Linked DNA regions of Homo sapiens: region 2 is linked to region 1. Evidence: fine-mapped expression QTL. Tissue or cell type: nasal epithelium. Region 1 holds a variant in brackets; the other region holds the start of a gene. All regions are shown on one strand. Distances are from middle to middle.

Region 1 (2,683 bases):
TCAGAAGTGGAGCAGAGATGGAGTAGGATACAAATAAATCACATTAATTATTTGTTGCAATAATTATTTGTATGCTGTATGCCAAATAAGTGTATGTGGGGTAAGAGCCATTGGTCATCAAGAAATATCATGATTATCTAGAAATTAAAAAATAATATCAGAGAGGCCTGTGAAGCTTTTGTTAATGGATGAAAACAGACTCCTAAAAAGGACTATACTATGGCATAATGTATGTAATTAAAGCAACAACAAAGCCCAAATCTACTATTAATACAGACTAGATTGACTCACACACACCCTCATTCTAATAGCCTGGCAGAGGCAATGCTCTTTTCTGGACATAGGTGTGATTCACCTGTCTCTACTGGTCCTTTTACTCACAATGCCCAGCATTAATGAAAAATTATAAGACACATGAGAAAGGGAAAAATATGACTTATCATCATAAGAAAAAAGTCATAGAACCAAATTTAGAGATGCTCAGATGTTAGAATTATCCAACAAGACTTTAAAGTATCTATACTAAGTATGTTAAAGAAGCTAGTGGAAAAGGTGGACAGTGTGCATCAATGAATGGAGAATTTCATTAGCGAGATGGAAACTTTTTAAAAAAGCCAGTGGAAATGTTAGAAATCGAAATAACAATATAAGGAAAGAAGACTTTTTAAAATGAACTTATTAACAGAATGAATATATCAGGGAATAACCAATAAAGTTGAAAACGGGGCAATAAAAATGATCCAAACTTAAACACAAAGAGAAAAAAGGGGTGAAAAAAATAGAGGATCCAAGCTCCATAGGACAATATCAAACATTATTTCATATAATGGGAGTTCCTGAAGAAGGGGAGAAAGATAATCAGGCAGAAAAAAATATTTGTAGAGATACTGGCTGAAATTTTTCTAAACTAACGAAACAATCCATCCACAGTTCCAAGAATTCCATGTAACCCCAAGCAGGATAAATAAAAAGAAAAACACACCTAGACACATCAGAATCAAACTGCAGAAAATCAATAAAGACAGAAATCTCAAAAACAGTCTGAGGAAAGAAAATTAAGTACCAGGGGAGAAATGTGATTTCTGATTGCAGAGAGCTGTAGCTACATCCTCCCTCACCACCCCAGCCCCAACCATCTGAGTTTCTCTGATGAGGCTAATGGGACTGCCTCAGAATGAGGTCAGAGAAAAATAGAACAAGTGCCACCAGATGCTACTTACAGATTCTCCTCTGTGCAGAAGGGAAAGTGTTTACACTAGATTGACACATTTTAGGCTCTCATGAA[G/C]AAAGTGGAATCCTTGCATAAAATGGGCTGGAACCAGAGGAAACTCTGGATGTCATGAGTGGAAGTGAAGCCCACAGACAGCAGCTGAGCCATCCAAGAGGGCCGCCCTTCAACCATCAAGCTATAAGCACTGCCACCTCTGCATGAGGTCTTTCTTTCAGTCTTCTCATCAGCCAAGAAACTGGTGCCCATCTCTCTCATTCTCAGCAGGGTGTAGATTCATGCACTGGGTACAATTCATGGGTTGTGCATGAAATTGAATAGAACATCCACCGAGTTTCCTTCCATTTTTGAAATTCTGTGTATTTCCTTTATAGTAGAAAATGTGTGTAAAATGATTGCTCCTCTCTAAGAGTTAAATACTACACCTTGCACATCCCTCTGCTGGTTCACTTTCCTTCCTTCCTTCCTTCCTTCGTTAAAATTATGTATTGTGAGCCTAGTATATGCCAGATATTTATCTCTGTCTCTATGTGGTCTCTATTCATTGGTGAGCAAATGGAGGGCAGGTTCTGCACTGACCTCATTCTTGCACTCCCATGTTGCTGTGTGTGGTTGAGAAAGAAGAAGAAAGGAGGGGAGGGAAGGGAAGGAGAGGGAAGGAAATAAAAGAAAAGGAAAGGAGAGGAAAGGAAAGAAAGCTCTCCCTCTAACAACTTACTTTCTGAAAGGGGCTGAACATGTCTCACTCTCCTGCCTCATTTCAAAATTTTTCCTTCTTAGCTGGTTCTTGAGCCAATAGAAAATTGCTTACAATTGTTGCCTTAGCAACCAGCAACCTTTGTGCTTTACTTCTGATTTAGAACTCATAGTAACCAAAGTCTCCATTTATTTGAAATGAATTTCTAAGTGGGTTTGCTTCCTTTACAAAAAAATAGATTATTTTCAAAAATGTAAATAGAAAATGTATTTTAAATACATTTTAAGTGTCTGTTTCTTGGTGTTCTTTTGGGGTGGGGAGGAGGTTGGGGTATTTTTCAGAGACTCTAGAACAAGCACAAGATAACATGGTGCTAACTTTCAGATTTTTTTTTTTCCTTTTCCAAAAGGTATGAACACTGCAATGAGAATCAAAGAAATCACATGATCTCCAGTCTGGGGCCAGTGCCTTAGGAGCCCCTCCCTGCCCCAGGCTGGCTCATTGCAATGTGCATACCTGCAAAGGCTCCTGACACAGGTATCTTTGTTGTGGAAACCATGAGAAAGTTTCTTAAAGAGGTGTGCCTCGGGTTGGAGCTCAATAAATATCTAAGTGAACTTGACAATGAAGAATGTACCTAGAAGCTTTCCTCCTCAAAACACTATTCAGTACAATTGCACAGCAAGAACTCCAAAATGCAGCTCCAGGGCAAAATATGTCCTATTTATACATGCATTTGATCAACACTCACTGTGGAG
Region 2 (2,683 bases), 81 kb after region 1:
GATCCCCTTCGTGACTACAGGTGCCCAGAGCCTACGGAATAGTCCGGTTGTTGTAATGACAGCGGGGTCAGAGGGAGGCGAGGGATCACAGCCTCGAGTCTCGGGACGCAAAGCCCAGCAGGGCTCTCTGCGGCTCAGGGCCAGCTGGAGAGTAGAGAAAAAGGCTGCCGAAGGCGGGGGCCGAGAACACAATTTGCGGAGCTAGAGCGACCTCCTCAAAAGCCCTTGCGGGACGGGTGGCTGCAGACCCATTTCTCACTGCAGCCGGCGGCGCGCAGCCCCCACAGTCCGCGCAGGCTCGGCTGCTGCAGGGGCGGACGCTGTCCCTGGTGCTGAAGGTGGCCGCGGCCCGTGTGCCCTGCCGGGTTTAGCTACCCAGAGGCGGCTCTGATATCTGAGGATTGCAGACTTCTCTCTGGCCCAGATCTGGGCCGGAGGGTCTGTAGGAGGTGCCCGAGTCCTCCTGCCGGCTCGGCCCCCGCGGCCGGGGGCTCTCCGCGCGGCTGCGGGGACGGAGAGCTCGGGAACCGACTCGAGCTTGAAGGGTAAAGCTGAGGCAGCGGCAGGAGACGGTCAAGGCACTGCAGGGGGCAGACCTGGCCCCAGGATTACCCACCCCAGCTCTGCACAAAGCCGGGACCCGGGAGCCCTCACGGAGCCCAGAGGAGAGGGCAGGGGAGCGCGGCTGCCCGGGGTTTGGGACTTGGGGGCGGGAGAAGGGAGCAGCGGGTGGCAGGAGAGGGTGATGGGGTGAGAGTGACTGTTTTGCATTTTCAAGAGGGAGGGGACCTGAGACATGAACTTCCCCCCCACCCCCCACCAACACACACACACACACACACACACACACACACACACACACACACACACACACACACAGGAGGAGGCCGGCAGAAGCGAGCGGGATGAAACTGGGGAAAGTTTGGCACTCGGCGCTGAGCGGCGGCGGCGGCGCGGTGGTCCGGGTGGGCGGCGGGGTCTCCGAGAGCCCCTGCTCGCTCGCCTCCTTACCTCGGTGCTCTCGGCCGCGTTCTCCGCCATTTTCCTCCTCAGGAGCAGGCAGCGGGAGGAGTGTTTCATGCCCATAAGAGCCGGCAAGGGTTTGGTGATACCGAGATAGTAGAGGAGGAGAGAGAGCTGGTGTCGCTTTAAAAGAGAGAGCGAGAGGATGGGAGAAAAAAAAAAATCCAACCCAGCCCCTCAGCTGGAGCGTCGGCCGGCACAGTCAGCCACAGCGGAGTCTGTTCTGCAGTCTCCACTTTCTTTTATTTTCCTCCCTTCTCATCTGCTCCGGATTCCTTCACACGGTTTCAAGTTCTTCTCGTGCCCCCGACCCCCTCCCCGCCCCTCTCCACCCGCGCTGCGGGCTAAGCTCGAGGGAAGCAGCCCCGAAGCCTCCGCGGCGGCGGCGGCGGCGGTCGCGGATCCTCTCCAGGCTGCTCGCAAAGTCCGGCCGGCCGGAGGCAGCCGCCAACTCCTCTCAACTTCTGCCGATCCGCTGGGCGAAGCAACACGCTTCCTGCGCGTCTCTCCTAGGGGCTGAGCCGGGTGAGTGGGGGCGGGGTAGGAGGTTCGCTGGAGCCGGCGGCGGCTGGGCGCAGACCGAGGGCCCCCAGCGCCCCCGGGCCCGCCCCCTCCCCTAGTCTCCGAGGGTCTCGGCCGCCTCCACTCCCTGGCGCTGCACACAACTTACGTGGAGGCCAGGCCCGCGCGGGGGGCCCAGAGAAAGCCGGCGCCGGGCGAGGCTCTTGCAGGTTCTCAGACCCGGTGCGCGTGCTCCCACCTAGGGCGAGGTCCGGGCGAGACCGGGCCACAGTTAACTCGCACCCTCCCCACCCCGGCCCACCCCAGCTCTCCCGCTCCTCTGCCAGTTCCTGGATCCTTCCTCGGCGAATTACGATTTGGGGAACGAAGGGGTGGGTGTCTGGATGGGGGAGGGTCCTTAACTCCTTCAACTCTAGGGGTAAGTGTGGTGTCATTCTTTATCCTTTTCTCTCTCTCTCTCTCTCTCTCTCTCTCTCTCTCTCTCTCTCTCTTTGTACCCAAAGCCCTTGGGACTCCAAGCCCCTTTCAGGCTGAGAGGGAGGGGCAAAGGTGGCGGCCAGAGTGGCTTGGGAAAGAGGGTGGGAGAAAGTCAAATGCGAGACTGCAGTGCCCCCCCCCCCACTCCAGTCTTCCCTGGCAGCCCCCTGCCCACGCATTTCTCTTCTCCCTCCTCACCCTTCCCCCACCATCGCCAGATTTTGAAGTCCCTTTTATGGGAGAGAGGGAGGATGTCACGTACCCGTCAGGATTCTCTTGATCCTTTTTTAAGGGAGTTTGGGCGGCAGCAGGGGGTGTGAATTTTTATACAATGCATTCCTGTCTTCACTTTGAGAGCTTCTTTTTCTCTGTTTTACTGGCCATCTGTCGGGCAGTGGGAGATAGAACAAAAGCGGGGGACCCCATTCTGCCTCTCCCTTTGCAACAGGACACTCAGGCTGACTCCTTAAAACAGCTGTACTTTTAAGCTTTCAACCTACGAGTCAAGGACTGAGACCTATAAGATGCTCCCTGAGCACCCGGCTGTCTTCACTTCATCTCTGTACTTGTTTGGGGAGGTCCCTCCCAAATGCCCTATTTGCTTTTTATCATCACCTTCGATAACTGGGAAGTGTGAGCCTGACTGTCCTCAACTAACCCC

What was found. PIP is the estimated chance that this variant, and not a neighbour inherited with it, causes the effect.
Region 2: PRMT8 starts here. The variant in region 1 is fine-mapped to the expression of PRMT8 in nasal epithelium (TOPMed, PIP 0.99).

The regions. Positions count from the first base shown.
Region 1 is chr12:3,571,261-3,573,943 of GRCh38, reverse strand. The region is part of intron 6 of PRMT8 (protein arginine methyltransferase 8); the gene reads right to left. Among named protein-coding and RNA genes, the nearest start is that of THCAT155, 80 kb to the right of the region's middle. The variant G/C (reference allele first, on the strand shown) is at 1,286.
Region 2 is chr12:3,490,029-3,492,711 of GRCh38, reverse strand. It overlaps PRMT8 (protein arginine methyltransferase 8), which reads right to left and starts at 1,509. Exons shown (of 10, transcript NM_019854.5): 1 at 1,012-1,509. The coding sequence starts at 1,086. The region is part of intron 1 of THCAT155 (thyroid cancer-associated transcript 155); the gene reads left to right.